2 separate regions of the Homo sapiens genome follow, and region 2 is linked to region 1. Evidence: fine-mapped expression QTL. A gene starts in region 1. The other region holds a variant in brackets. All regions are shown on one strand. Distances are from middle to middle. Region 1 holds the start of FTH1 (ferritin heavy chain 1). Region 2 has its middle 33 kb from the start of FTH1.

Region 1 (16,204 bases):
CCTTTGCCCTCCTACTGCAACATTTTGGTATTTGAAATGAAGGGACCTTCCATACTTATGCTGTTAATACTTTCATTCTCACTAGGGATGAAGCACATTCCTAACCTGCTTCCTAATGGGGATGCTTCGCCAGCCAGGTCCTCACCTGTGTGTACACCAGCAGGACACTGATCCAGTCACAGCCATACAGCTGTCCACACTGAAGAACATGTCCTACAACAGCCTGAATCAAATGGTTAGCTTAATAGATAAAAATCCCAGACTACTTCAGCCTTTAATGCCTTTTATTCATAAAAACTGTGAAAGCTAGACTGAACCATTGGAAACATTTAACTCAGACTCTGGATTCAGAGTCGGGAACCCTTAGTTCTATCTGAATCCAAGACAGCCACACCTTAGTATACTGCCCAAACTAATGAGTTTAATAAATACAAATACTCGTTTCTTTTTGATTAGTGTGATTAGAACTGAACAACGGCACTTAAGGAATCTGGAAGATAGCCTGGATAGATTTCTGATTCATCCCAAGACCTCAAAGACAACACCTGGGTACCAAATTTCTTTATTTGAAGGAATGGTACAAATCAAAGAACTTAAGTGGATGTTTTGGTACAACTTATAGAAAAGGTAAAGGAAACCCCAACATGCATGCACTGCCTTGGTGACCAGGGAAGTCACCCCACGGCTATGGGGAAATTAGCCCGAGGCTTAGCTTTCATTATCACTGTCTCCCAGGGTGTGCTTGTCAAAGAGATATTCCGCCAAGCCAGATTCGGGCGCTCCCATCTTGCGCAAGTTGGTCACGTGGTCACCCAATTCTTTGATGGCTTTCACCTGCTCATTCAGGTAATGTGTCTCAATGAAGTCACACAACTGCAAAACAATGGGGAAGACAGTTAGTGGGCAGCTTTCCCAATCCCTAAGGCAAATGATTTCCTCCATTTATTTCCTGGGGTTCCAATACTCACATGGGGGTCATTTTTGTCAGTGGCCAGTTTGTGCAGTTCCAGTAGTGACTGATTCACATTTTTTTCCAAATGTAATGCACACTCCATTGCATTCAGCCCGCTCTCCCAGTCATCACAGTCTGGTTTCTGAATGAGAATAGGTTAATGCATCTCTACCAACTAACCTAGAAGTCAGCAAGCCCATCATCTCTAACCACCACGTTTTGGCAAAAGGGACATTACTATTTGCCTAATTTAGTTTAGATGGTAAGCCTAAAAAAGCACAAAAGGCAAAAGCCCAGTGTATCATCACTTTATAAGGGCAATTGCTAGTTTAAGTGATTTCTGATACCCGAACACTGCCAGATGATGAAGTATGACACCCCTAGGATCTTTTGTTCACCTTGATATCCTGAAGGAAGATTCGGCCACCTCGTTGGTTCTGCAGCTTCATCAGTTTCTCAGCATGTTCCCTCTCCTCATGAGATTGGTGAAGAAAGTATTTGGCAAAGTTCTTCAAAGCCACATCATCGCGGTCAAAGTAGTAAGACTGAAAGGGGAACACTGAATGTGTTATACTAGGGATCCCCAGAGACAGGTAGCTGTGACGATCTACAGGGAGGCAAGATGGTCTCGTCAGCCTAGGCTTCCTTTCTCAAAGCACAGCATGAAGGAATCAGTGCCTAAGGAGACTGGGGGGCAGATGAGCTACTGGATTGAACCCAAGAGTAATGTTTCTATTCTAAAATAGAAAACTGAAACTTGATCCTTGAAACTTAACTTCAAGGAACCTTTAGGATATTATGGGCATTGCCTGGGGCAATGTCTTAAGGATCTGTATTACTGCACAGAAAACTTACAGCCAGTGTCAGAATTCATTGTCTGATGAGAGGGCGCTGGAGTACTGACCCTGCACTTAGTCCTTTTCTCCTCCCTGCTCCTGTATTAACCATGTTAAAGCATGGTTAAAACTGAGCTCAGGAGTCTGCCAGCTGTACCACATATTTATTTATAAAATTAAAAACCCCTGCTGGGTGCGGTGGCTCAGCCTGTAATCCCAGCACTTTGGGAGGCCGAGGCAGGCGGATCACGAGGTCAGCAGATCGAGACCATCCTGGTCAACATGGTGAAACCCCGTCTCTACTAAAAATAAAAAAAAATAGCTGGGCGTGGTGGCGTGCGCCTGTAATTCCAGCTACTCAGGAGCCTGAGGTAAGAGAATCACTTGAACCCAGGAGGCGGAGGCTGCAGTGAGCCGAGATCGCGCCACTGCACTCCAGCCTGGGCGACAGAGCGAGACTCTGTCTCTCACACACACACACAAATTAAAAACCCCCATGCAAGGTGGCAAATGTGGACAGTATGTTGATGTAAACATACTTTTATAATAGTTATATCACAAAAATTTGATTTTCAGTTTTAGACATTTGATGTAGTCAAGTGTTTGTGAAAGGCAGTGACAGTCACAGAAATACAGGCCTGTTTTCAAATCCATTTGGAACACATTTATTCTTGGGATAGTTTGGACAATCACAAGGCAATTCTAAGGAAGACTCCCACGACACTGCCTAAGACCAAGATTTGGGAAAACTGATTCCACTGATCACTGAAAAATTTCTTGCCCAGTAACTGTCGGTGGACTTTATCCAAGAACTGGGGGTTCAATTAGTAGGCCAAACTCCACACCTCTTACAGTAAGATACATAAAAGATAAATTAGGTCCCCTAGGCGCAAGGTCAGGTGACACTTCGGTGACTGCAGAAGGGGCGATTCCTAGAGATATGCTTCAAAGCAAGTGGGACTTAGAGATAAGCAGAGCCGAGAGGTGGATACGGCTGCTCGAGAGGGATCTACCCACAAGATAAGCCACCTCCCGCCAGCCCCCAAGGTTTGCTATTCGACACCGTTACCCAGCAGCTCCGCCACACACAGGCGGACGGGAGCTGGATACCTAAGCAAAAAACGCTGGCATTTAGGGCCAAATGCCGGAGGCAGAGGAAAAGATGGGAAAGCAAAACTCCACCTTCCTAACCGCAGGATTGATCACACAGGCTGGCAGTCTTGCAACCCCAGGATTTCAGGACACCAAGGTCTCCTTAAAAAAGAAGGGTGTGCAGAGGCGGCCCTGGCCTAGGAGGGAGCATTCTCAGGGTACAGCCGAGAAGAACCAGCTGCCCCGACTTTCTGCGCCAGAGAAGTCCTCGGAAACCTCGAGCAGCCTCCATTTTCCAGAAGGGCGCAGGGAGGCGGGAGAGCCCGCGGGTGGCCACACCCCCGGCCCGCCCCAGCGCGCGCCCCGGGAACCGCGCCCGGCCCCCGCCACCGCTTAGGCCCGCCCGCGCTCACCATGGACAGGTAAACGTAGGAGGCGTAGAGCTCCAGGTTGATCTGGCGGTTGATGGCGGCCTCTGAGTCCTGGTGGTAGTTCTGGCGCACCTGCGAGGTGGACGCGGTCGTCATGGCGGCGACTAAGGAGAGGCGGCGGCGGCGGCGGTGGCTGCGCGGCGCTGGAGCGGCGGCGGGGGCCTTGGGGCAGTCCGAGGGTGCGGTGAAGAGGTGACGGAGGGCTGGCTATGGGCGGCCGGCCGGGGTGGGGAACGAGCGCCGGGTTCCGTCCAAGCACTGTTGAAGCAGGAAACCCCGACGACTCTCGGCGAAGAACGTCTGGCCCTGCGGGTCGCTTGTGGTCTCTTATAGCCGCGTCGGCGTCAGGCCCGCCCCGGCCAATCAGCGCCGCCCGCCCCGAGCCCGCTCCTTCCGGTGGGCGCGGGACCCCGCCCCTGCTGTGGGGGAGGGGCGGCCGCTGGAGGCCCTCGCGCGCTCTGGCGGAGCTCGGGAGCGGGGACCGGTAGCCGACTGCCTCTGGGACAGCGGTGGCGTCTCTGTGCCCGTTTAGTGGAGTTGGAGGGAAGCTGCGAGGAGGCGCAGGAAGTCCACCTCAGAACCCCCCCCCCGGTCTAGGGGCGCCCGGGCGTTGGAACCGGCGGGGGAAGGGTGCGGGGGCGCATGGGGTGATCCTGATTCGGCTCCCATTTTCCCGAACGGGCACCCTGAGGCTCCTGGCCCGGGGCATGGTGTTAGAAATCATAGCTGCGGAGAAGCCCTTGTGACACCTTGCTGCAGATTGGGAAGCTGCAGATGATTGGGAAGGTGGAAGGTGGAGACGCGGTCCTTAGGTGGTCGAGCGCATTTTCTCTTCCTCAGAGTCCAGGAAGGAGCGCGATGGAGAAGTGGGGCGCACGGCGGGTTTCGGGTCCGCCCCTGCCCTTCCGACTCCTCCGACCACGTCTGCCTTTGGCTGAAAGCAAATATGGCTCCGTGTGCGGTTTCTGCAACAAAGGCTGGGCGGGCCGGGTTTCCCTAGGGATGGGGACCGCCTCCCCGGGGAGTCGTGGGGGTGAGCCACCGGGGCCTCCGAGAGAATCGCTGGTGTCGCTTCGCACCCAAGGGACACATCTCGGGTTAGAAAGGAGAAACGACGTGGATCTAAAGGCGAAGCCCATGCTGAGGACTTTTCAAAATGGCCTCTTATCGGCCCCACTCACAGGAGCTTCAGGCTTCGGTGGCCCTGTAGGACAACCCTGGGGTGTCATTGGAGAGAAGCTGACGGGGTTAATGGCGGGTGACAGGTGAAAGAGACCCCGGAGGGGTGGGGCCGGTGTGTGTGGCTAAGCTGAGTCCCAGGCACAGGGTGGATGTGAATTTATGGGTGGCAGAGCTAGAGCTAGGCCCTGCCCTTACCTAGGTCCTGGCTTCGAGGTCCACTGTTCTGTCGCGTCTTTTGACGCATCGGTGGAAGAACTGAATTTCAGGATGCTCACAAACCTGCAGCTGGAAGCTAGACTTCCAAACCTTAGTTTAAAAAAGCAACTCTACTGAAATACTAAAATAAATTGCCGACGGAATTAGGGTGATTTCTTGTTCACGGTTTCATTTAAAAATGCACCTATGTTATTTACAGGAAAAACGTTTTAGTGGTGCTAGAGCTACAAGAATAAGGTAAACAGAAGGATGCTGCTAGACCAGGAGTACCTTACCCAGTCTGGGATAGGAGGAGGTCGGGGAAGCCCTCCCTAAGCAAGACACGTGAGCTGAGTTTGAAGAAAAAGTTAAAAGGAAGGTGAAGTGCGGGAGAGAAACAGGGAAGGGAATTTGGAGCAGAGTGAACAGCATATGCAAAGGTGTGGAAATGTGGAAATGCATGGCCTGTTAAAGCTGCCTTAAGAAAATATGTTGCCTGGGGCTGGGCGCGGTGGCTCATGCCTGTAATCCCAGCATTTTGGGAGGCCGAGGCGGGCGGATCACTTGAGGTCGGAGTTGGAGATCAGCCTGGCTAACTAACATGGCTAAACCCTTCTCTACTGAAAATACAAAAATTAGCCGGGCGTGGTGGCATGCGCCTGTAATCCTAGCTATTCTGGAGGCTGAGGCAGGAGAATCGCTTGAACCTGGGAGGCGGAGGTTGCAGTGAGCCGAGATCGCGCCTTTGCACTCCAGCCTGGAAGACAAAACAAAACTCCGTCTCAAAAAAAAAAAAAAAAAAGAAAGAAAGAAAGAATGTTGGCCTGGAAAGTACAGTTTATGTTGGGGGATGCTGGTTAGGGTGGAGAATAGGGGCAAGATCGGGCAGGGTTGTGTTCCATAAAAAGAGGTTAAACTTGATCCTAGAGACAGCATAGAGACACCTCATTAGCTTTGTTTTTAGAAACCTTACACTGGGAATCTCTTAGGATAAGAGTATAGCAAAGTCACCATATATAGGATCCAAAGCTTTCCTTTATAACAGTAACCACCAGTTAGAAAATATGGGGAAAAAAGAATGGAAAAAAAAATGTTTTTCACTTACATTGACAACAAAAGCTTAAAGTACCTTGGAATAAAGTTAACAAGAAATATATAGAAAAAACTATAAATGCTTACTGCTGGACAAAAAATTCAAAAAGCCTAGCATAAATGAAGAGGTACCATATTCCCAAATGGTCGGTCAATCTTCATTCTGTAAAGATGTCAGTTTCCCCAAATAAGCATAAATTCACTGCAATTTCCATAAGAGGCAGTTTTTTGTTTTTGTTTTTCCTCAGCCATTACTGTCTCTGGGACAGTATTTTTTTTTTTTTTGAAACTTCACAAAATGATTCTAAAGTTCATTTGGAGGAGTCAGTGTGTTGATAGATTTGCATTTGGTGCTATAATAAAGGTACAGTAAAGTGCTATAAGCAGTATGGTACTGGCACAGGAAGAGATGACTAGATTAATGCAACAAAATAGTCCTGCCCCCCTATTATGAGAACTTGGTATATGCTAAACTGTTGTGTCACATTAGGGAAGAAAGAATGGGTTTAACAAATTATGTTGAAACAATTGACAGTCATGTGGAGAAAAGTGACTCACTCAGTATTTAAAAATACATTCCAGATAGATTAAAAATCCAAGCCTTAAAAAAAGTATAAAGTTTTGAGAAGAATATATACAAGATTATTTTTATAATTTTGGGGTAGGGAATGTTCTTCTGAGGCTGTCAGAAGCCGTAAAAGTACAGTTGGCAGGTTTGCCTATTTAAAAATGAAAAGCTGTAAGACAAAAGATGTTGTAAACAAGGTTAAAACAGAGATGACAAATTGGGATGATATTTGTAGCTCATGTAAGTGATGAAGATTAGGAACTATAATATATATTTGTATGTTTAATGAAGTACTATGTATGTGTCACACCTTTTTTTTTGAGATGGAGTTTTGCCCTTGTTGCCCAGGCTGGAGTGCAGTGGCTTGATCTCGGCTCACTGCAACCTCCACCTCCCGGGTTCAAGAGATCCTCCTGCCACAGCCTCCCAAGTAGCTGGGACTACAGGTGCCTACCACCACACCTGGCTGATTTTTGTGTTTTTAATAGAGACGGGGTTTCACCATGTTGGCCAGGCTGGTCTCGAACTCCTGACCTCAAGTGATCCACCTGCCTCGGCCTCCCAAAGTGCTGGGATTACAGGCATGACCCACCGCACCTGGCCTTATGAGACCCTTTTGATTGCCTGCGCTGGTGCTGTAGATGGTAAGCTCCTGGAAGGCAGGCATTGTTTCTGTCTTGTCTCTGCACTCCCAGCTTTTTGCAAATTGCTTGTTACTTGGTGCCCAGTATCTGTTGCATGAACAGATGGATTCATGATTGAATGTGGAGGATGGATGAGAGTGAGGCTAGAGGGCTGGGCACCAGTCAGGAGGCAGCAGCCTTAGTTATTAGTGAGCAGAGAAGATAGAACACAGATTTGACAGATCTGGAGAAGATCAAATGAACAGACTGATTGGCGAAAGTCGGGGGCCAGGGGTGGGCAGTGTGTAAGAGATCTCTCAGCTTTATGATTTGGTAGGCCTGGCTGCTGCTGCCATTCCCTGAGCCAAGGAGCACAGGAGGAAATGAAGGTTTCGGGGAAAGCCCTTGGGGAAGGCCTGCTTGGTTTTGGACTAGATGTGCTGAGTTTCCAGGCTTCCGGGATGTCCAGGGGGACAAAGCCAGCATGAAGCTCTCGGACCCACTGGAGGGAAGTCGGTCTGCTGCAGGGAGTAGGTTTCCTGAATCAGTGTTGGCTCCATGCTTGGCTAAACATGCATGTAGCTGCAGTGAACATCGCAGCAAGACTGAGGGACAGCTTGTGCTGTAGAAGGTCATTGGGAGGAGGCTGGCTGGGAACAATGGAAGGGAAATCTATTGGTGGGGGAGTGTGAGTGTGTGTGTGTGTTTATGATTGTTTATATGATTGCTTGTGTCCGTTCCCTACTTTCTGGTAACTTGAGGTGTCAGAACTGCAATGTCTAAGCCTTTAGATTCTTCCGAAGCTGTGGCCTGGTCTTGGGACCTTTGTTGACCAGGGTTCTACCTCCCCCACCCTCCAGCTCAGCTCCTCGTGACTTGGAGGCAGCAGAGAGTTTGGCTGGTCTCCCAGGACAGCCGCCTCCCAGGGCCAGGAGTGGCGGGAGGGACCTCAGATGAGAGAAGAGCCAAGCCGGTGGTTTCTGGAGGTTCAGCACATCCTGGAGCAGGAGGGGGCGGTGGTGGGGGTTGCGGTGGAGAGTTGCTGTCCCACCGTGACTCAGCACTCTGCTAGGCTGGGCTTGGGCTCAAAAAGTGCTTTGTCATGGAGGAGAAGAGCAGTCATAAGACCTGGAGGGCTGTGGCTTCACTGTGGAGGGAGGGAGGGAGGGAGGGAGGGAGGGAGGGAGAGTGTCCCCCTCCCCCCATTTCCTAATGGGACAAAGTCCAGAGGCCGGACTGGGAACAAAGGGGTCTGAGATCACTCAGGGGGGCCTCTGATGGTGTTTTTGCTGGCAAGCCTAGGTGTCACTTTTCCTACCTATCCCTCGCTCAGTGCCTTCCCGCCGCATGGGGAATTCTCAATAGATGTTGGGTCCCTTTCTCTTCTAGGGATTGTTATTGTGTAGTCACAATTTAGGATCCACAGCTAGGAAATCATAGACCCCCCACAAATTTTAAGGCTTTGGAAAGGACGTTAGAGCTTCCAAATCATCATGTTTTACAGATAAGGTGAGACCCAAAAAAGGTTAGGCTTGCCCAAAGCCGTAGAGTCACTGGCTGAAACACAAGCTGAAAACTAGGACAGGGCACATGATGGAACCCCGCATGGCCATTAAATACAGTAAGTGTGTTTAATAAGTGTGTTGCTGGAATGTGTGTGTGCAGGAATGCTATGTGAAAAGGCCAGACCCCAAACCGTTCCACAGGCTGATTGCAACAAAGAAAAACCTCAGGGCTGGAGACATAGATGAGGATTGGGAGAGAATGGGTTACGTGGTATTTTAACTGAAGAGCTGATGTTTTAAATGTCTGGGATTTCCCCTGAAGTGAAGTGAAGTAAAGCAGGAAATTCGAGTTTTGAAATTCAGACCAAAGGAAAAACAATACTAAATCAGTATTTGGGTACATTTCTGGATGATGCAATCATACTCACAGAGCTTGTCCTGAAATCATTTCTTGAAAACCCTTGAGGCCATGTAAACTCAGAGTCTAGGTACTTGGAATCCCCCGCTTCCAGAAGGTTAACGAGAGCCACAGCCTGCGATGTTTGAGGACAACTGTGAATGGAAGGCAAGGCCCATTTTTGAATGCTAACTCAGGCCTCACTGCACTCCAGACTTCTGCCAGAGACCCTATCACATGCCCTAGCTATGTGTTTACCTCCTGGCTGGACTTTGAAGTTTTAAGCTGTGTCCCCAACCCTGGCACAGCCCGGGGGTCCCTCCAGTTGTAGCAGTTTGCAGCTCTGTACCTCTTCTCTGGAATGGTCATGCCCAGCAGAGCATCGGCTCTCTACCTTTGGACTAGCGGCTCCTGGAGATCAAGGGTCTTGCCTTTAACAGTCCCCAGCTGTATCCTTCCCAGTGAGCCCCTGGGATATGCACACAGTGAAGAGGCCACGTGGCCTCTCTGAACTTTGATTCCTGTATTATTTATGGTATCTGAAGCCAGCCCTCTCCCATGCTACCTTGAGTACCCGCTCTGGGCGCCCTCTTTACCACAGTTCCCGTTGCACCCCGTCAGCTGGGACCCAGCCACATGGCATCCCCACATCACCCCATCCAGGCTCAGCTGTGCTCACCCTGGCCAAATCAGGGGAGGCCCAGCTCAGCGCAGGTGACAGGTGGGAGCCATGGCTAGCAGCCTTGGGAGGAGGATGAAAAAACAGAAAAATGTCTTGCAAGTCTGGGCAGGGACCTCAGCAGCCAGAGGCCTTGGCAGCCAGGGGCTGGGAGTGCCTCCTCATGGAAATGGGAACTATGCCTCAGGAGTTTTCACTGTGTAGACACTCACTATGGTGGAGGGGAACGATGGCTGCACAGCACAGTCCCTTGAGCACCGGGTCGGAGGGAGTAGGGATCAAGAGGATCTGAGAGATCAGCAGCCAGGGACTAACCCAGCTGGGAGGCAGCAGAATGAAGCAGCCGGAAAGAGCGGCTAGGGCTTTCCTGCCCCCAGAGAAGGGGCACAATCCAGGAGAGCTAGTGAGTCTTGCTGGGCCAGCAGATGGGGCCTCGGTCAGCAGAGGGAAATCCTGAGTGTCCTATGAGAGGGTCAGGACCCCAAAGATCTCACCCTCAGCATGGATGAGGCCTCCCTCCAGCCTGTGGCTGTTCCCACTGTCCCAGGCTCCCTATTTCCTGCCTCTACCACCTCCTGCAGTCCCACTCTCTCTAATTTGTCTCTTTTCTGTCTGTCCCAGCATTATGAAATACAAAGATAAGCACTTTGTGATTACAACTCCTTAAAGGAGGCCGGTACAGTGGCTCACACCTGTAATCCCAGTACTTTGGAGGCCGAGGTGGGTTGATTGCTTGAGCCCAGGAGTTTGAGACCAGCCTGGGTGACATAGCAAGTCCCTCTCTCTCCAAAAAAAACACAAAAATTAGCCGGGTATGATGGCACAGGCCTGTAGTCCCAGCTATTCAGGAGGCTGAGGGAGGAGGATTGCTTGAGCCCAGGAGTTTGAGACCAGCCTGGGTGACATAGCAAGTCCCTCTCTCTCCAAAAAAAAAACACAAAAATTAGCCAGGTATGATGGCACAGGCCTGTAGTCCCAGCTATTCAGGAGGCTGAGGGAGGAGGATTGCTTGAGCCCAGGAGTTTGAGACCAGCCTGGGTGACATAGCAAGTCCCTCTCTCTCCAAAAAAAAACACAAAAATTAGCCGGGTATGATGGCACAGGCCTGTAGTCCCAGCTATTCAGGAGGCTGAGGGAAGAGGATTGCTTGAGCCCAGGAGTTTGAGACCAGCCTGGGTGACATAGCAAGTCCCTCTCTCTCCAAAAAAAAAAAAACACAAAAATTAGCCGGGTATGATGGCACAGGCCTGTAGTCCCAGCTATTCAGGAGGCTGAGGGAGGAGGATTGCTTGAGCCCAGGAATTCGAAGCTGCAGTCAGCAATGATTGTGCCACTGCACTCCAGCCTGGGCGACAGAGCCAAACCTTGTCTCTAAAAAAAATAAAAAATAAAATAAAACTCCTTAAGTGCTCTCCACTGCCCTTGGGATATAATTGTAATTCCAGGGTATGGCCCAGCCACTCACCCCCAGGCTTCTCTCTAGCCCTCCAGGGTTCCCCTCACACCTTGGGACTTGGCACAGCTGTTTGATCTGCCCAGACGGCCTGCCCCTCACTCTTCTGCATGAAAAAGTACCCAGCCTTCAACACCGGGCTCAAATATGCTCCCAAAGCTCCCTGCACTGCCCCGCAGAGCTGAGAATTTCCATTCTTTGTGCCCTCCAGCACTCCGAGCGCGTGGTCTCCACTGCCACGCAGTATTACAGTGACCTGCTCCATACCCACCTCCCCCACAGCAAGGGAACCTCTGCCCTGTTTATCTTGGCCATGCCTTTGCCTTTCCCACCTCAGCACCTGGCAAAGTACTCACAGTTTCACAGGCTCCCAGACTACCGACAAATATGGGCTGGATTTAACTTGGACTTAGCTCTTAGCCCAACTCTTATTCATCTTTCCTGTTGCTGAGCGTTAGGCTGCCCCACCACTACCCCGTGCCTCATAGGTTTTTTGTTTTTTTGACAGTCTTGCTGTGTTACCTAGGCTGGAGTGCAGTGGGGCCATCTCAGCTCACTACAACCTCTGCCTCCCGGGTTCAAGTGATTCTCCTACCTCAGCCTCCTGAGTAACTGGGATTACAGGCATGCACCACCATGCCCAGCGAATTGTTGTATTTTTAGTAGAACAGGGTTTTGCCATTTTGCTCATGCTGGTCTCGAAGTGCGGCCTCAAACAATCCGCCCACCTCAGCCTCCCAAAATGCTGGCGTGAGCCACTGGGCCCGGCCAGGTTTGGTTTTTCCATCTTTACTTAATTAAGACTACCAGCTGTTTCTACCTCCCGTATGGAAGATGCTGGGAATTGGTGAGTCTTTCTGGGGTTTCAGGATTATTCCTAGGCAGAGACCTGAAGACACTGTGAGGCAGTCGGGGCTGGGACCAGCGCGGCCATGGGGATGGAGATGTCACAGTCACAGGCTCTGTGGCTCTGAGGACCAATTCCTGTGGCTTGCTTTTGTGGCCACAGAGTGTTTCCTCAACTGGAGGAATCTGTGGGCTGTCACTAGGGACCAATGTGGGAGGAAAGCAAGAAGGGTTGGTATAAAAATCAGCTTGCTACTACAAAACAATGTCCTATCCTTCCTGGCGGTGGGCCAGTGCATTGTTGGAGTTTTCATTCCATAAAATAACAGATTTTTACATAAAGTAAGTTGACACCTTCGGGGCTGACACTGACAGCACCTCTGAGTAGGTAGGGCAGGTAGCCCGTGCTGGCAGCAGAGGTTTCCTTTATCCAGTGAGGAAACTGGAAGTCAGAGAGGTTAAGAGACGGCCTTGCCTAAGATTGCGCAGCTGGTAAGAGACAGGGCTCTGACCAGAATCTGGACTCTGATTGTGGTGCAATTTTCTGAATCTGGTGCCCTGACACAGCCATGACGGCAATTCTTAAACTCAGCACATACATTACCCTTAATCTCGAAGCATGCAGGAAGAAGAGCTCCAAGATTCCACTTGCTGAGGCTTCTGAAATATCCCTGCAGGTGGAGAGCACTTCCTGCAGCCCTGAATCCTGAAGGCGAGCCAGCACCCAACTTCGGTGGGCTTCAAGCCACTGGAGTTGGCCGAGGGTGCTTTCAAAGTAGTTGCTGTGATTCTACCAGCAGCAAAGCTGTCACGGGTGATCTTTGAAATTAATGGGCTGATTTGATTAGTAACTGAAGTCTGTTTGCTTGGTGGGAGTTTTGTGGTTCTTTGGATGGCACTCTTGGGGATCTCGTGGCAGGGCTTAGCGAATTGGACTTGGTCTTGAGTTATCTGGACTTGGTGCTAATGGCTGGCAGGCCCAGGAGATGCCTGGGCAGCCCGTAGACTGGGGCTATCCAGTGGCATTCTGAGCAGGGCAGTGGGTCTCGGCCCACATGGGAGAGCTAAGGGTATTTCTGGAGCATGTAATTCCCAGGGACCATGGCTGGCTCCTCAGACCCCCATTACTCCCACTGTGCTTGGCTGGTCCTCCCAGGGGCTGGGGGCCTCTGCTCAGCCACAAGACACACCATATTAGGGAGTGGTGGGAGATGCTTCCCTGAGGGTCTCATGGTACCTCCTTCGTATGTAGGATCTGAGAACCATATAAACTTGCCTAAAAGAGTCTCGGGGCCTCTGGAGCTGAAGCTGTTCACATGCCGGGAAGCATAGGATGACCCACCTCCAAACTGGGGCAACACCAGCTCCTCCCCTGGGGCCTTAGCCCACCCTTGGTTTTCTGTGCGGAGGGCTCACCCACCTTTCTGACAAAGCTTCTGATGGCTCAGAAGCCAGTTGGCCTGAGTCAGAGCCAGGAGAGCCTTCCCATGGGAAGGGGCTTTACATGCTATTACCTTTCTCATCTGTTTCCAGCTGCACGGATGATATGCTAACCCCCTGTCAAACATCCCTGCCTTTTGTAATTCTTTGAAAGCATTAGTTGGAACCAAGTGGCTCTCGTTTTTCCCCACTATTTACTCACCTATCCAGCTGCCCTTTCAATATCGTGGGTGTGTATGTGGGTGGACAGGGGTGTGTATGTGTAGTGGCAGGAATCCGGATGTTTTGCTTTTTGCTTTTTTCTGGAATTGATTTCTCCAGATCCATACCTACTCCCCAATATCCACCTGTCTTCTGGACACTAGATCCAGATTTTCCTCTGGGGAACTATTTCCCTCCCTCCAACCTCTGTGATGTGCTATAATTGGAACTGCCTCCATCCCTAGATTCAGGGATAGACATGTTTTGTTTTACTTGCAACAGATTTTTCAGTCAACTTACCTTTTATATCAGGGGTCCCCAACCCCTGGTCCATAGACTGGTACCGAAGGTGCATAGACTGTGCACCTCCAGGCTGCATGGCAGGAGGTGAGCAGTGGGTGAATGAACATTACCTCCAAGCTCTGCCTGCTGGTTATCCCAGCTCTGCCTCCTGTCAGATCAGCAGTGGCATTAGCTTCTCATAGGAGTGTGAACCCTACGGTGAACTGCACGTGACAGGGATCTAGGTTGTGCGCTCCTTATGAGAACCTAACTAATGCCTGATGATCTGAGGTGGAACAGTTTCATCCTGAAACCATCTCCCTCCCCCACCCCTTGTCCATGGAAAAAATTGTCTTCCACAAAACCGGTGCCTGGTGTCAAAAAGGCTGGGGACCACTGTTTTACATCATCTAAATGGCAACTGATTCCTGCATGGGTCTCAGAATTTTCAAGACAGGAAGGAGCCTTTGAGACTATCTAATACTTTCAATCACTCAACTAATGTTTTTATTTTGTTATTATTTTTTTAAAAATAGAGACAGGGTCTCAACTCTGTCACCGAGGCTGGAGTGCAGTAGCACGATCGTAGCTCACTGCAGCCACCAACTCCTGGGCTCAAGTAGTCCTCCCACCTCAGCCTCCTGAGTAGCTGGGATTACAGGTGCATGCCACTACACCTGGCTAATTAGAGCAATTTTTGATGGGGTCTCACTATATTGCCCAGGCTGGTCCCAAACTCCTGACCTCCAAAGATCCTCCTGCCTCAGCCTCCCCAAAGCTTGGGATTACAGGCCTGAGCCACTGCACTTGGCTTCAAACATTTTTAAATGCCAGCTCTATGCCAGTCCTTGGGTTAGATGAAGAAAATGATATCTGGGGCTGGGGATTTGGGGTGACCAGATCAGGGTTACAGGGAAAGTCGGTGGCTGAGCCAAGGACCAAAACCTAGGCCTTCTGACTCCCACACCAGCCTTCTTTCCTCATGCTTCTCTGCTTCCTGAGATTAAATTCTTCTGGCAGTGCTCAAGTACGGTTATGTGATTATGAAAAAACACAGGGAACTCTGTGCCAAGCAGCTATCATTGGTTTCCTGGGCAGGGTTGCAGAGAAAGAGGAGAAGGACAAAGGAACTTCTCCCACCCCTGTGTGCCAGCCTCAGCTCTCTGGCGGGGGGCAAAACAGGCTCGTGGGGCTGCCTGAGGGCTTGTCCTCTGGTGTCCCTCCTCTGGGCCCCAACAGTCCTCTGCTTCATCCACACCAGCCCCTGGGGTGCCCCACCGCACCCCTGGTCCCCCGCCTCTGTCCTTTGTTGAAGTCTTTCCTCCCCTAGCTGTTCACTTTTATCTATCAAAGATCCACCCTTTCTCCAAGCTGCAGTCCAGATCCTGCCTCTGCCGAGAAGTCTTCCTGGATTCAGAGCTTGTCTCTTATTCCTGCTAATGTTTATTCCTTCGGCCTTTACTGAGTGACAGGAGGCCCTGTGCCATTGCATCATCATAGGGGAGGCTCGTAGGAAGGCATCATAGGAGGCTTGTAGGAAGCTGGTCTTCATCTCTGCTCCCAGGAATGGGACCAGGCCCTGGCACCTGGCAGGGCCTCAGCTAAGACTCTGGTTGGATGTGATTGAATCATCGTGAGAAAGGGGAATCCTTGCCCTGCTGGGGGGCGAAACGGGGGGTAAAGTTAGGACCCCCTGCCCTGCCCCATCTCACAAGCGTTGTGAAAAGGTCTTGAGCTTTGTCTGACTGGGTCTCGCTTGAGCCAGTACTGCCCCGTGAGAGATGGTTCTTTGCACTTAACTCCAGGTAACGGAGGGCCCATCCTGCAGTTTCCCCTTAAGAGCCTGGAATGGGAGCCTCGGGAGTTGGAACTGGTCTCTGGAGTTTGCCTTAAGCCCAACCAGCTTGGTCAGCTCTTTAGCCCAAAACTCCTGTATTCCAAGGGCAGGGGTCCTCAGGCCCAAGCTCCACCCAGCTGGGTGGGTTAGACTCAGACTCTTTTCTTAAAAATGAATCAAGTAAGAATAAAAACTAATACTTATTAATAAAAGCAGATACTTCTTGACCCCTTACTACATAGGCCAAACATGTCATTCGACAGATGAGGAAACTGAAGCACAGAACTACAAAGTACCTTGCCCAAGGACACACACCTGCTGTTCCAGTCCAGAGCCCACACTCTGAACCGCTCCTTGTCCCCACCCACTGCCCAGATCATTCGGCTCCATCCTGTTATCCACTTGTCATTCCACTGTTTGCCCATGGTGCCTCCCATATGGGGATTTAGTAAATGCTTATCAAATGGGGGTGCTTATTGAATTTGAGATTTCTGTTTGTTTACCAGGTTATCCCTAGCAAGGCATGGAGGGAATAAGGGGGAACAACAAAAATGCTGGATGCTGGGCTGGGCGCGGTGGCTCGCGCCTGTAAT
Region 2 (16,204 bases), 29 kb after region 1:
AAACAAAAACAAACAACAACAACAACAACAAAAATGGCTGAAGAAATCCTTGATTTCCCCACTTCTTTCCCCCACATATAAGTTAGTTTTCTAGTATCCAGTAAACTTAAAAAATTATGAACTCCTGGATTTAAAAGTATTTGATTAACTATAATTCAATTAACTATAATTATTGTCTGTATTGATTTTCAAATTATCTCAATTTGGGTCCAGTAGCAGCCTATTCACCTTGACCGTGAGTCCTTTTGACATGGCCTCTATAATAGAGATCTTTGATTAGTTCTTTGCTTTCTGGTATGATGACCTGTTCCAGGCTTAAGCTCACTTTGTACATTTACTTCTACTCCCCAGGCTTGCAATCAGCCATTTCTCCAAGGAGTCCTGGTTCCTTTGGTGGAAATATTAGGTTAGTGTCAAAGTAATTGCAGTTTGCCAAAGTAATTACTTTTGCACCAATCTTAATAGCATTTATAAGTCACCATCTGGGTACCAGAAGCACTCATTGTTTCTGTGTTCAATAATGCTAGACCTTTTCAGAGGACACAGGACCGTTTAAAAAAATTTTTTTAAGAAGAAAAATGAGTTCATTCTGAGACTTTCATTTCGAATTCAGAAGTCTAGGGTTTTTGCTTCATCTTAAAGATTTTTTTTTTTTTTTGGGGGGGGAAGGAGTCTCGCTCTGTCGCCCAGGCTGGAGTGCAGTGGCGTGATCTTGGCTCACTGCAAGCTCCGCCTCCCGGATTCACGCCGTTCTTCTGTCTCAGCCTCCCGAGTAGCTGGGACTACAGGCGCCTGCCACCACGCCCACCTAATTTTTTGTATTTTTAGTAGAGACGGGGTTTCACCATTTTAGCCAGGATGATCTCAATCTCCTGACCTCGTGATCCGCCTGCCTCGGCCTCCCAAAGTGCTGGGATTACAGGAGTGAGCCACCGCACCCGGCCTCATCTTAAAGATTTTACATCCGAATTGTCTTTCTTCTAATGCCCCAAATATCTGTTCTCAAGTACAATTACAGAATTAAGTATAATTACAGAATTATTTATTTATATTTTTCTCCACGACATACACAGCAGTGTTAAAGTAATAATCCCTATACTACCACTAAACAATTATTATTGAAAACAGCTTAATATTTTGATCTTGTAGTTTTCTTCGTATAGTAAATCCCACGAGGAATATACAGTCAAATGAATGTACTTTAAAGCTCCTTTGGAAGAGCTCCTCTCTGTGTTTTTGCTACCAACCCATTCAACCCATTACACAGTTAGGAGCATTTACTTCATTTTGCTTTCAATTTTTAGAATTGCTTTTAAAAGTTTAATTTAGTTTTATAATTATGTAAAATATGTGCATGGTCAAAGTCAAATGTGTAAAATAAGATATATTTAAAAGGATCTAGGCTGGGAATGGTGGCTCATGCCTGTAGTCCCAGCACTTTGGGAGGCTGAAGTGGGGAGGATCACTTGAGCTCAGGAGTTCAAGACCAGCCTGGGCAATGTAGCAAGACCCCATCTGTACAACAATTAAAAATTTTGTATTAAAAAAAGCTAAATGTGGTGGTGCATGCCTGTTGTCCTAGCTACATGGGAGGCTGAGGTGGAAGGACCGCTTAAGCCCAGGATTTTAAGGCTGCAGTGAGCTATTACGATGCTACTGCATGGGTGACAGAGCAAGACCCTGTCTCAAAAATAAATAAATAAATAAATAAATAAGTGGATCTTGTGTCTATTCTCCCCCCACTGTATTCTTTCTTTCTGTTAAACTATCAATGTTTGGTATTTAATTATAAGAAAGTATTTACTTTTATTTTTTTAAGACAGAGTCTCGCTCTGTCGCCAGGCTGGAGTGCGGTGGCGTGATCTCAGCTCACTGCAACCTCTGCCTCCCGGGTTCAAGCGATTTTCCTGCCTCAGCCTCCCGAGGAGCTGGGACTACAGACTGCGTGCCACCACGCCTGGCTAATTTTTTATATTTTTAGTAGAGATGGGTTTCACCGTGTTAGCTAGACTGGTCTCGATCTCCTGACCTCATGATCTCCCTGTCTCAGCCTCCCAAAGTGCAGGGATTACAGGTGTGAGCCACCGTGTCCGGCCCTGTATTTACGTATTTTTGTTTATATCTTTCCTTCTTAGAGAAACAGATCCTAAGATGTCCTTAGGATCACACTATATTAGTTTGTAGAGATCTTCCTTGTTCTTTTTGTGGCTGCAAAGTACCCCATTGTGTAGATGTGCTATTGTTTATTTCTCAAAGTCCTTATTGATGGATTTTTGGCTTTTTCCCATGCTTTGGTTTTTACAAACAGAGCTGCAATAAACAGCATATCTCTGTGTCTTTTTGTATTGTTTGCAGTGTATCGTTAGTATAGATTCCTAGATGTGGGATTGCAGGATCAAAGGGCAAATGCGCTCATAATTTTGCTAGCTATTACCAAATTCTCTTCTACAGTGACCGTACCATTTTGCATTCCCACCAGGAATATGTGAGAATGTTGGTTTTCTCACAGTTTGGAAAAGAGAGTATAGAGTATTAAGCTTTTGGATTTTGGCCAATCTGATCAACAAGAAATAGTTACTTGGGGCAATTTGTGTTTCTTTTACTGTAAGCAAGGTTGAGTGTCTTTCCGTATAGTTTTGAAATATTTGCCTTTCTTTTTCTGTAAACTGTTTGTATTTTTAGGGCATTTTTCTTTCAGGTTGTTGGCCTTTTTAATCTATATTAGGAGCTCTTCATATACTAAGAATATTGGCCCTTTGTCCGTGATGTAGGTTGTAAGGTTGTTGTTTTTTGTTAAACCAGTCTATCATTTGTCTTTTTAATTTCGCATATGTTTAAAATTTTCATTTAATTTTTTTTCCATACAGAACTTTAATTCCTTGAGACTTGTTCATCTTTTCCCCTTATTGTTTCTAGGTGTTGAGTCAGAATTAGGAAATTTTTCCTCACTCCCAAATTATAAGAGAATTGGTCCATGTTTTCTGTTAGACTTGTATGGTTTCATCTTTACATTTAAATCTCCAACCCCGCCGGGCACAGTGGCTCACACCTGTAATCCCAGCACTTTGGGAGGCCAAGGCGGGCAGATCACTTGAGGTCAGGAGTTCAAGACCAGCCTGGCCAACATGGTGAAACCCTGTCTCTACTAAAAATACAAAAATTAGCCGAGTGTGATGGCAGGCACCTGTAATCCCAGCTACTCGGGAGGCTAAGGTAGGAGAATTGCTTGAACCTGGGATGCAGAGGTTGCAGTGAGCCCAGATTGCACCACAGCACTCCAACCTGGGTGACAGAGTGAGACTTCGTCGCTAAATAAATAAATAAATAAATAAATCTCCAACCCCTTTGGAATGCACTGTGGTCCACAGCATGAGGAGTGCTTCCAGCTGGTTCTGAGTCCACAAGGCTCTCCTGCTATCCTGACACCAGCTATGAAGTCACCCATTCTTTCTGTTTTTTTTATTTATTTATTTATTTATTTATTTATTTATTTATTTATTGTTTTGAGTCAGAGTCTCACTCTGTCACTCAGGTTGGAGTGCAATGGCACAATCTCTGGCTCAATACAACCTCTGCCTCCCGGGTTCAAGCAATTCTCCTGCCTCAGCCTCCCGAGTAGCTGGGATTACAGGCGCCTGCCACCATGCCCGGCTATTTTTTGTGTTTTTAGTAGAGACAGGGTTTCACCATATTGGCCAGGCTGGTCTCAAACTCCTGACCTCGTGATCTGCCCACCTCGGCCTCCCAAAATGCTGGGATTACAGGCTTGAGCCACCGCGCCCAGCCCATCTTTCTGTTTTTTTTTGAGACGGAGTCTTGCTCTGTCGCCCAGGCTGGAGTGTAATGGCACAATCTCGGCTCACTGCAACCTCCACCTCTCAGATTCAAGGGATTCTCCTGCCTCAGCCTCCCGAGTAGCTGGGATTACAGGTGCATGCCACCAGGCCCAGCTAATTTTTGTATTTTTAGTAGAGGTGGGGTTTCACCATGTTGGCCAGGCTGGTCTCGAACTCCTGACCTCAGGTGATCCACCCGCCTCAGCCTCCCAAAGTGCTGGGATTACAGGCATAAGCCATTGTGCCCTACCAAAGTCACCCATTCTTTCCCATGACTTGGGATGCTGTCTGTATCAGACATCAGCTTTCCATAGGCCATGGGAGCAATTTCTGGATTTTATGCTGTGTTCTTCAGAAGGATCGCTTCATTTTATTCATCCCTCCCTGCCAATGTCCTCCCAGCTTCTCCAGGATAGTAGGGTGTCAGGCAGAGCATCTGTAGCGGGAGGCGCTGTGGGGCTGGCTCTAGGGCTGCGGAAGGCTTTCACCTGACAACAAAGCCCTTTGTTCCAGGCTCAGAGATCAAGCTTTGGAGGCAAATGGTCTTGAGAGGGAGATCTGCCAATCCCTACTAAGCCACACTTTGCAGATAGAGAGGCATTTCTGGAGAATGACCTTCAGAGAAGAAGAGTGGGCATTGGAGGGGCCTCTGGCAGGAGGAGACCCCTATTCTGTCCCTGGGGAAAGGATGGATAGGACCAAACATTCTACATTTAGAACCAGTGCTGGGGCCTGCAGGGAATCAAATCCTGGCTAATGATGGCCCTTGAGGGATGACTAATCTTCATAAGCAAGACAGAACCATCATCTATGCAGCTACCTACCCATCCACTCGTCTTAATATTAAGATGATATATTAAGATGATATAATATTTATATTAATATAAATATTCACTTAATATTTAATTCACTCCATAGCAAGCACAATGCTCTGTGCTGTGGGGGAGAGAGTCAGCACTCTGTTCCTGCCCCTTGTTTAGGGAGATGAGAGCAGAAGCTCCGTGGGTCTACAAGATAAAAATACCATAAAAAGGCTGGGCACAGTGGCTCACACCTGTAATCCCAGCACTTTGGGAGGCCGAGGTGGGCGGATCACGAGGTCAGGAGATCAAGACCATGCTGGCTAATATGGTGAAACCCCGTCTCTACTAAAAATACAAAAAAATTAACCGGGTATGGTGGTGGGCACCTGTAGTCCCAGCTACTCGGGAGGCTGAGGCAGGAGAATGGTGTGAACCTGGGAGGTGGAGCTTGCTGTGAGCCAAGATCGCGCCACTGCACTCCAGCCTGGGCGACAGAGCGAGACTCCGTCTCAAAAAAAAAAAAAAATCATAAAAAGAGGCATGGCCTTGTTTTCTGAGCAATGTTCAACACATGTGTTCTTTTCTTTTGAGACAGGGACTCACTTTGTCACCCAGGCTGGAGTGCAGTGGCACGATCTTGGCTCACTGCAACCTCTGCTTCCCAGGCTCAAGTGATCCTCCTGTCTCAGCCCCCCAAGTAGCTGGGACTACAGGCACATACCACCGTACCAAGCTAATTTTTGATTTTTTGTCTTTTTTGGTTTTTTTTTTGTTTGTTTGTTTGTTTGTTTTGTAGAGACACGGTTTTGCCATGTTGCCCAGGTTGGTCTCAAACTTCCGGAGCTCAAGCAATCCACCTGCCTCGGCCTTCCAAAGTCCTGGGATTACAGGTGTGAGCCACCATGCCCGGCGATTACATCTGCTTAAGTAAATCATTGGTCCCATGTCTCAACTCTGCTGGCTAGAAATACAAATTCTAGGAGGAGAAGAAGGCCAGGGGAATAGAATGACGAGGAAAAATCTTTAATGACATGCTGAGCTGTCATGTTATAAAGAAACAAAAAAATACTTTCTGGGAGACAGGCTTGAAGTGGAGACAGAGAGACGTCATTTCCAGCCTAGGGGCTCTAGGGTGAATTTGTCAAATTGATTTTTGGTGGGTTGTTTTGGGGCAGATTGCTTTTCAATAAATTGTCTGCCTGCAGCACGGTATGAAAGGTATGAAAGGTGTCCTTTGGAAGGGTCGCGGCTCCCACTTCCCTCCAGCACTTTTAAGACATAGTGGGCCAGGCACAGTGGCTCATGCCTGTAATCCCAGCTATCCAGGAGGCTGAGTCAAGAGAATCACTTGAAACCAGGAGGCAGAGGTTGCAGTGAGCTGAGATGGCACCACTGCACTCCAGCCTGGGTGACAGAGTGAGACCCTGTCTCAGAAAAAAAAAAGAAAAAAAAAAAAGAAAAGAAAAGAAATGAAAAATGGATGTGGAAAGTAAAATTCCTCTTCAAAGTTTCCCTTCTTGTTAAAGAATAAATAATAAATGTTAGAAATAATAGTTTATTTTAAAGACTAACTTCCTCCAAAGCCTTCTTGCTTTTTGCTAATAACTCTTTGTTAAGCCCTATCCTACGTAGCTGTTAGATATAAGGGAATAAGTATATTCTATGTCCTTGTACTTTAACCAAGATATTTGTTCTGGGCATGCTCAGGCATGTCCCAGCTCACAGCCTTTGCCCCTTCCTTATTTGGAAATGTTGTTACTTCTCTAAGTCCTTTCGCAAGCCTCTTTTCCTTTTGTTCTCCATTACCTTTACCTATTTAGGAAAGTCTTAAATTGTTAGCCAGCTGGGTTTAACTTAGACTGTGAGGTCCAGCTCCAACCAATGGAGATAGGACACAGCAGTAAGGACCCAGTGCATAGGGGATAAATATTCCTGTCTTTCTTTGTTCAGTGTGGTCTCGTGGCAAGATTGCTGACAAGCAGCACCTTTTCTGCAGTAAGTAAAATTGCCTTGCTGTGAAAACTTTTTGTCTGAATGCTGATTTCTCCTTGCGGCACCAAGGAACAAGCATTTTGTTTCTAACAATGGATAAATGTTGGAGAAGATGGATATGCTAATTACCCTGATCTGATCACTAGAAATTGTATATATTGAAATATCACTATGTACCCCACTGATATGTACAATTATGTGTCATTTAAAAAATAAAATAAATAGCTGGATGCAGTGGCTCATGTCTGTAAGCCCAACATTTTGGGAAGCCAAGGCGGGAGGATCGCTGGAGCCCAGGAGTTCTGAGACCAGCGTGGGCAACATAGGGAGAGGTCTTGTCTACTAAAACAAACAAACAAAAAAACTAGCTGGGCCCAGTGGTGTGCACCTGTAGTGTCAGCTACTCAGGAGGCTGAAGTGGGAGGATTGCTGGAGCTGGGGAGTTCGAAGTTGCCATAATCATACCACTGCACTCCAGCCTGGGTGACAGAGTAAGACCCTGTCTCTAAAAAAATTAAAAAATAGGCTGGGTGCAGTGGCTCACGTCTGTAATCCCAGCACTTTGGGAGGCCGAGGCAGGTGGATTACAAGGACCAGCCTGGCCCACATGGTGAAACCCCATCTCTATTAAAAATACAAAAATTAGCTGGGCATGGTGGCAGGCACCTGTAATCCCAGCTACTCAGGAAGCTGAGGCAGGAGAATCACTTGAGCCCGGGATGCGGACGTTGCAGTGAGCTGAGATCACACCATTGCACTCCAGTCTGAGCCACAGAGCAAGAGTCCGTCTCAAAAAAAAAAAAAAAATTAGCCAGGCGTGGTGGCAGGCACCTGTGGTCCCCGCTACTTGGGAGGCTGAGGCAGGAGAATGACTTGAACCCGGGAGGCAGAGGTTGCAGTGAGCCGAGATCGCACTACTGCACTCCAGCCTGGGTGATGGGGCAAGACTCTGTCTCAAATAAATAAATAAATAAATAAAATAATAAATAATAAAAATTAAAAAATAGAATAAAATAAAGGCAGACCCTAAAGGCCCAGAGTAGGGTAGGGCCATAGGCAGTGAAGCCCACCTCCTCTCTGGATGTGCATCTGCTTGAGGTCATTCCTGCTCTGCTCACCTCCTGGCGTCCCTGTGAGGATGGACGGATATGAAGACCCTGTAACCTGTTGAGTGTCCCGACAATAACATCATTGATCGTTTGCCTAGATTTTGCAACCCCTGCCCCCACTGCTAAACCACAGTTTATTGCTTAGCAGCTCTGACCTTATACCTCCTTATCTCTCTGAGGTGGCCTTGAAGCCCAAGTGTCACAGAGTCAAACATGGTTAAAGAGTAAAAGTGGCTTTAGAAATCATGATGTCTGGGAATTCTCAGCAGCTGGAGCTGCCCCCACTCTGCCTCTGTTGAGACTTTCATGGGAAGCCGGGGTTTTTAGGGGAGCATGTCCTGACCCTCGGCTGTGTACAGAAGGAAGAATTACCTGGGTGGTTTGACCAAGTCCAGGCTGCCCCCAGCCCAGGACTCCTCTACATGCAGGACCAGGCTGGCGATGTTCACCAGCTCTCCCGGACCGCCCACCTGGGCCAGGAGAACCAGAGGCTCAGTCCAGGTGGGGTTGGGGGACTCACCATGATGTGGCCCCTTCCTCTGCTGGTCCATAGCAGAATGGGACCCTTCTTTCTGCCTGTTCCTTAACCCATTGCTACCTGTCCTGGGGAGTAACATCCACAGCCTCTGAGTGCCCCCGCTATGACGCAGCCTGCTCCCACTCTGCTCATCGTCTTCGGATCCAGTGTCTGCTTCTTGGGCCTTTGTGCCACGTGGCATGCTTCCTACCTCCTCTCCGTCCTGGTCCCCTCCCCAGCCTTGCTCTCCTGCCTGCCGAAGTGGCGCCCGGTGCAGAGAAAAGACAGGCCCCGCCCGAGGTAGACTTGGGCGCGCTTTGTGTTGCTTACGGTGGCTGGTGGCAAAGTGCTGCCCCAGGGCCTTTAGAAAGACCCTAAGGAGAAACCGTCAAGAAGCCCCAGGAAGTGACGAAATCAGGAACACCCTCACCCTGGGATCTGGGAGGGGGTTGAGTGATTTTTCCTCCCCCTGCATGTCATTATCATGATTATTTTCCTAGAGAAAACCACACCTGTCGATTGGATCTCCCAGTCCTGGTGTGGGGGGTTAACTCAGGAGGGTCAGCTGGAGGAAACAATGAGAGGGGTGAATAGAGGGGTGAGGGCTCGAAGTTCCTAAGCTCGTCTTGCCTACCCCTGAGACCCCTCAGCGTCTTTCTGGTCAATTAAGTAAAAGAAGCTGTCCTGAGCTCAGTGGGTGGCCTAGCAGTGTGGGAGCAGGCCTCTTAGTCCGCAGTTCAAGGGCCTGGCTTTGGGGCTGCACGGAGCCTTGGCAGGGAGCCCACTGCAAGGTTAATCTGTACCTTCTCTGGCTCCACATCTGCTGGAAGAAGAGAGCAAAACCTTTGTTCCCTCTGCTGGAAGAGGAGTTTGGAGCCTATCTTGCCAAAAAAGACTGTGTTTGTAAGTATTCAGTAGATTTGTGTGTACGAAGAGAAGTCAGCAGAAGCATTTTCACCCAGAGAAGAAATTTCATCACCCTCATCCTTGGCGCATGGGAGTCAGGCAGTCTGTACAGCGAGTGATGGGAATGTCTGACTCCATGAGGCACTGAAGAGAAAACAGAAGGCTGTGTTCTCTCCTCGTGAAAGCTAAGGGTCCCTGCTGACAGTGTAGCTTGCCATCGACGGCTCTGCTTAGTCAAAATGACGCTCCATGTGTTCATTTATTTTTTGAGACAGGGTCTCGCTCTGTTGCTCAGGCTGGAGTGCAGTGGCACGATCTCAGCTCACTGCAACCTCTGCCTCCTGG[G/A]TTCAAGCGATTCTCCTGCTTCAACCTCCCAAGTAGCTGGGAAAATAGGCATGCACCACCACTCCCGGCTAATTTCTGTAGTTTTGGTAGAGACAGGGTTTCACCATATTGGCCAGGCTGGTCTTGAACTCCTGACCTCAAGGGATCCACCCGCCTCAGCCTCCCAAAGTGTTGAGATTACAGGCGTGAGCCACCATGCTTGGCCAACGCTCCATGTAAATGTGTATACACTTTATGCAGACAGGAAAGATTTCCTGCTTCCATGAGCATCCCCGCGAGTAACCAGATGAGAGGGATAACAATCCAAGAGATTTTCCAGAGTGCTCCCTGGACCTCCAGATTCCGGCATTTTCGATGCCCCTCAGGACTTCCATATTCGCTGTTCTCTCTGCCCGGATGCTCTTCCCTTAATCTCTCCTGGGCTGGCCTCTTCTCAGAATGGAGGGCTCAGCTGGAGAGTCAGCTCCTAGCAGCCTTCCCTGACCCCTCCGCAAAGGAGTTCATCTCCCCAAGACTCAGTCCCTCTCTATGCCATTACTGGTTTTGCTTTCTTGTAGTTAACACTATTTCCGTGGAATATACTGACCCTTTCCAGCCTCCACTGACTATAGTGTGAACTTTCTGAGAGTCATTGGGCCTTACTGTCATCATCACTGCCGTATCCCAGTACCTAGAAGGGTGTCTGGCACCTGGGGATGTTCAGTCATTATCTATTGGATGGGTGGATGGTACTTGGGTTTGGATGGAGTGAGGAAGAAGATGACTTGGAGAGACAAGTTGAGCCAAGAGGACGAGTTGGCCTTTTCTTTCTTCAGCTTTCCTCTTCACATATGCCCCTGAGGGGAGATCGCTGGAGAAAGAGGCAGCCCACTGTCCCTGTCCCTGGAAACACCTTCACCAACAATGGGCTGATATTCTCCCTACGCTGGGCCAGGCAGATGGAGTCTCCTTCAGCCGAGATGTTTCTGGGGCAGAAGATGCACCTCTGCCACCATCCTTTACTTAAACCGGAAGACTCCCAGCCCCTGTGAACAAGTCCGTCGGAAGTTCTCTGTCTGCATGGGGCTAGAACCCAGGGAACCCCAGGCTGGAAAAAGTGGGTGGGCCCACATGGCTTGCAGAACTTTAAAAGTAAGTGACACAGGTGGGAACAGGCTGAAGGAGCTAGGTTTCTGTTTTTTTTGTTTTGTTTTGTTTTGTTTGAGATAGTCTCGCTCTTGTCATACAGGCTGGAGTGCAGTGGCGCGATCTTGGCTCACTGCAACCTCTGCTTCCCGGGATCAAGCAATTCTCTTGCCTCAGCCTCCCAAGTAGCTGGGATTACATGTGCCTGCCACCCTACCCAGCTAATTTTTTGTATTTTTAGTAGAGATGGGGTTTCACCATGTTGGCCAGGGTGGTCTCGAACTCCTGACCTCAGGTGATCCACCTGCCTCGGCCTCCCAAAGTGCTGGGATTACAGGCGCGAGCCACTGCGCCTCGCCTTCTTTTTTTTTTTTTTGGATGGAGTCTTGCTCTTGTCGCCCAGGCTGGAGTGCAGTGGAGCAATTTCGGCTCACTGCAACCTCCACCTTCCGGGTTCAAGCTATTCTCCTGCCTCAGCCTCCTGCGTAGCTGTGATTACAGGTGCCTGCCACCACGCCCAGCTAATTTTTGTATTTTTAGTAGAGACGGGGTTTCACCATGTTGGCCAGGCTGGTCTCGAACTCCTGACCTCAGGTGATCCACCCTCCTCAGCCTCCCAAAGTGCTGGGATTACAGGTGTGAGCCACCGTGACCTGCCAGGGTACAAATTTTCTTTTTTTTTTTTTTTTAGACGGAGTCTCGCTCTGTCGCCCAGGCTGGAGTGCAGTGGCACGATCTCGGCTCACTGCAACCTCTGCCCCTCCAGGTTTAAGCAATTCTCTGCCTCAGCCTCTGGAGTAGCTGGGATTACAGGCATGCGCCACCACGCCTGGATAATTTTTTTGTATTTTTAGTAGAGACGGGGTTTCACCATCTTGGCCAGGCTGGTCTTGAACTCCTGACCTCGTGATCCACCCGCCTTGGCCTCCCAAAGTGCTGGGATTACAGGCGTGTGCCACTGCGCCTGGCCATGGATACATATTTTCTAACTCATTCTCCTGGTTTCAGCGTTTTGTGTTTTTGGGTGTTAGGCTTGCTAGAATTGTAACCTTTGCCTTCCTGGAACAGAAAGCTCCAACTTTGTGTGTAATTTTACTGAAGTGGACCCACTCCTCAGAAAACAAAAAGAGAAAAACCCCAGGGGAATTAGGATACACACATATTGCAAAAGCCTCTGTGGTCAAGTGTGCGGGATTTCCAGAGGAAATGAAAGTCAGGACCAGCAAGAATATCAGACCAGCTGGCCAGAGCCCACCTCCATGGCTAGTCTTGCCCTGCAGCCAAGAACAAGCTTACTTCCTCTGAGTCAGCTCATAAGCCCTCCTTGGACCACAACCCTGGGCTGCATGTCAGTGCCACTGCCATGGTGGGTCCCCTGAGAGTCTAGGAGGCCTTAGAAAGATTCCGAGGCCTGGCCATGCATGGATTTTGCTCTTAAAAAATGTCTCTCAGCTGGGCGCAGTGGCTCACACCTGTAATCCCAGCACTTTGGGAGGCCAAGGCAGGCAGATCACAAGGCCAGGAGATCGAGACCAGCCTGGCGAACGTGGTGAAACCCTATCTCTACTAAAAATACAAAAATTAGCTGGGCATGGTGGTAGCATGTGCCTGTAGTCCCAGCCACTCGGGAGGTTGAGGCAGGAGAATCGCTTGAACCTGGGAAGCGGAGGTTACAGTGAGCCGAGATCGTGCCACTGCACTCCAGCCTGGCAACAGAGCGAGACTCCGTCTCAAAACAAACAAACAAAAAAATGTCTCTCTCCTCTCTTTCAAATGAGCAGCTGCCCGAGAACCCACAGGAATGGATGGAAGGATAGAAAAAGGCAGAAAAGACACCCGCGGGACACTTTGGAAGCCAGTGCCATCTCTCTGTTCTCTAACAGTGCTAAGAAAGGATGGGCCTGTGGGTAATCATTCTGATCAAAAGCCAAGGCAGCAGCTGGACTGTGCCTCCAAACTGTTCTGGAGGAAGAAAATATGCAAAGAAAGATGTTATTCAGGGCTGCAAGCAGCCTCCCTCTTCTGCTCAATCTCCCTCTTTCTCTCTGAAATTCTTCCCACCCACGGGTGCCAGCTTTTTCTGTCCCATGATGTCGGGGGTTGGGACGGGGGATGGGAGAACTGACTGCCTGACTCCACCTGACCAGCTGCCTGCAATCTGTAGGTCGTGGAGTATAGGAGATCCAGACTGTTCCCCAGACACCAACTGCCAGCCTTTAAGTGTCCTCCATTTGCTACCACCCAGGGGACCAAGGGTTTTTCTCTCCCACAAACCATATAATTGGACTCACAGCCTTTTTCTTTTAGGAGAGCTTACTGAGGGGTTGATAGGAAGGGCACTGACAAGATGGGGGGCTACCAGCTTCCCCAGGGGAAGTGACTCCTAGGCCAAGACTTTACAGCGTGAATTTGTGTTTCTCTGACTTGGACAGTTGGTTAAGATTAAAAAGGAGAAGCCATTTTTCAGCGTGTGGATGGCCACCTCCCCAGAAGAGTTTCTCTTCTGGGAATAAAATAGGAACCAAGGGGCTTGATGCAGTGGCTCACGCCTGTAATCCCAGCACTTTGGGAGGCTGAGGCAGGTGGATCACCTGAGGTCAGGAGTTCAAGGCAAGCCTGGCCAATATGGTGAAACCCCGTCTCTACTAAAAATACAAAAAATTGGCCGGGCACAGTGGCTCACGCCTGTAATGCCAGCCCTTCGGAAGGCCGAGGCGGGTGGTTCACGAGGTCAGGAGATCGAGACCATCCTGGCTAACATGGTGAAGCCCCGTCTCTATTAAAAACACAAAAAATTAGCTGGGCATGGTGGTGGGCGCCTATAGTCCCAGTTACTTGGGAGGCTGAGGCAGAGGAATGGTGTGAACCCGGGAGGCGGAGCTTGCAGTGAGCAGAGATCTCACCACTGCACTCCAACCTGGGCAACAAAGCAAGACTGGGTCTCAAAAAAAAAAAAAATTAGGCGGCTGTGATGGCACGCACCCATAGTCCCAGCTACTTGGGAGGCTGAGGCAGGAGAACTGCTTGAACCCGGGAGATGGAGGTTGCAGTGAGTCGAGATCGTGCCACTGCTCTCCAGCCTGGGCGACGAGCGAGACTTCGTCTCCAAAGAAAAAGGAACCAAGGTCATACCAATGTTCAAAGTTCAGATAAGGCTGAATGTGGTGCTTATGCCTATACTCCCAGCTGCTTGGGAGGCTGAGGTAAAGGGATCGCTTGATCCCGGGAGACTGAGTCTACAGTGAGCTGCAATCATGCCACTGCCCTCCAGCTTGGGCAACAGAATGAGACCCAGTCTCAAAAAAAAAAAAAATTTAGATAAGATATTTTGACTGAAAATCTATCATGAACCCCAAATATTCTGCCCAGGCCAATGTAGTCCAGGGAGAAGAGTGTTTTGCTTTATTAAATTTGTTTCTCTAAAGAGTTGGACCTGTGTTCATTTGCCTCTTTCTCCAATGCCTTAGAAATTAATGGTGTAGATCAATGAGGTACAACTTAGAGTCTAGAAATAAACCTATACACGTAAGGTCAATTAACTTTCAAAAAGGGTGCCACAGGCCAGGCACGGTGACTCACGCCTGTCATCCCAGCACTTTGGGAGACTGAGAAGGGTGGATCACCTGAGATCAGGAGTTTGAGACCAGCCTGGCCAACATGGTGAAAGCCCATCTCTACTAAAAATACAAAAATTATTCGGTGTGGTGGCAGGTGCCTGTAATTCCAGCTACTTGGGAGGCTGAGCAGGAGAATCATTTGAACCCGAGAGGTGGAGTCTGCAGTGAGCCGAGAATGCGCCACTGCACCCCAGCCTGGGTGACAGAGCGAGATTTCATCTAAAAAAAAAAAAAAAGTTGGAGGGGCCACAGTCATTCAATAAATGGAGCTGGAACAGGCTGGAACAACTGGATATCCATGTTCAAAAGAAAGAAGTTGGACCCTTACCTCATACTATGTACAAAATTTACTCAAAATGGATCAAATATCTAAATGTAAGAGCTAAAAACTACCAAACTCATAGAAGAAAACATAGGGCTAAGTCTTCATGACCTTGGATTTGGCTATGGATTCTTAGATATGACACCAAAAGCACAAGCAAGTAACAAAAGAAAAAGTGGACTTCATTGGTATCTAAAACTTTTGTGCATCAAAGACCACTATCATGAAAGTGAAGCAATAACCCAAAAATGGGAAAAATATTTGCAAGTCATATATCTGATAAGAGTCTAGGATCCAGAATACGTAAAGAACTGTTAGAACTCAACAATTCAAAAAACAAACAAACAAATGAGCAAAGGACTTGATTGTACATTTCTCCGCAAAAGATCTGCAAATGGTCAATAAACATGGTCCTCAACATCATCAGTCATTAGGGAAATGCAAATAAAAATCACAATGAGGGCTGGATGTGGCGGCTCATGCCTGTAATCCCAGCACATTGGGAGGCTGAGGTGGGCAGGTCACAAGGTCAAAAGATCCAGACCATTCTGGCCAACATGGTGAAACCCCGTCTCTACTAAAAATACAAAAATTAGCTGGGCGTTGTGGCACGCACCTGTAGTCTCAGCTACTCGGGAGGCTGAGGCAGGAGAATCACTTGAATCCAGGAGGCAGAGGTTGCAGTGAGCCGAGATCGTGCCACTCCAGACTGACAACAGAGCAAGACCCCGTCTTGAAAAAAAAAAAAAAAAACCACAATGAGATACCACTCCCTACCCACTAGGATGGCTATAACTAAAAACACTGAAAATAACAAGTGTTGGTGAGGATGTGGAGAAATTGGAAACTTCATACATTGCTGGTAAAATGGTACAGCTATTGTAGAAAACTTTTTGGCAGTCTTCGAACACTTAACTGTGGAATTACCATATGACCCAGCAATTTCACTCTTAGGTATATACCCAAAAGAAGTGAAAACAGAAACTGGTACTTGAATGTTCATAGTAGCATTATGTGTAATACCCAAAGGTTTGAAGCAACCCAAATGCCCATCAACTGGTGATTGGGTAAACAAAATATGCTATATTTATTCATTTCATGGAGTTTTCTTCAACCATAAAATAATGAAGTATTGATAGATGCTACCACATGGATGAATCTTGGAAACTATGCAAGATGCCAGACACAACAGCCCACATATCATATGATTCCATTTATATGAAATGTCCAGGCTGGGCGCAGTGGCTCACACCTGTAATCCGAGTGCTTTGGGAGGCCGAAGCGGGTGGATCAGGAGGTCAGAAGATCGAGACCATCCTGGCTAACACGGTGAAACCCCGTCTCTACTAAAAATACAAAAAATTAGCTGGGTGTGGTGGTGGGCACCTGTAGTCCCAGCTACTTGGGAGGCTGAGGCAGGAGAATGGCGTGAACCCGGGAGGCAGAGCTTGCGGTGAGCCGAGATCACACCACTGCACTCCAGCTGGGGTGACAGTGCGAGACTCTGTCTCAAAAAAAAAAGAAAAAAAAAAAAGAAATGTCCAGAATAGGCAAATCCATAGAGACAGCAGAGTAGTGGTTGCTGGGGAACTGGAGAGAAGGGACAATGGCAGTCACTGCTTAATGGGTATG

The links. PIP is the estimated chance that this variant, and not a neighbour inherited with it, causes the effect. A credible set is the group of variants that fine-mapping cannot tell apart.
Region 2: its variant is the best candidate, but not a certain one, in a credible set for the expression of FTH1 in NK cells (Gilchrist 2021, PIP 0.68).

What each region holds. Positions count from the first base shown.
Region 1 is chr11:61,964,019-61,980,222 of GRCh38, forward strand. It overlaps FTH1 (ferritin heavy chain 1), which reads right to left and starts at 3,616. Exons shown (of 4, transcript NM_002032.3): 1 at 3,294-3,616; 2 at 1,351-1,497; 3 at 969-1,094; 4 at 267-873. The coding sequence starts at 3,407. The coding sequence ends at 709. It overlaps BEST1 (bestrophin 1), which reads left to right. Exons shown (of 11, transcript NM_004183.4): 11 at 86-443. The coding sequence ends at 104. It overlaps LOC399900 (a long non-coding RNA gene), which reads left to right and starts at 3,276. Exons shown (of 1, transcript NR_187560.1): 1 at 3,276-4,861. RefSeq lists enhancers at 1,622-1,851, 4,483-4,552, 4,673-4,722, 7,859-8,153, 7,957-8,101 and 1 more, silencers at 3,143-3,342, 3,613-3,962, 14,363-14,579 and cis regulatory regions at 7,588-8,347, 7,593-8,104, 8,024-8,034.
Region 2 is chr11:61,992,834-62,009,037 of GRCh38, forward strand. No RefSeq gene overlaps it. Among named protein-coding and RNA genes, the nearest start is that of FTH1, 33 kb to the left of the region's middle. RefSeq lists an enhancer at 7,904-8,656. The variant G/A (reference allele first, on the strand shown) is at 9,509.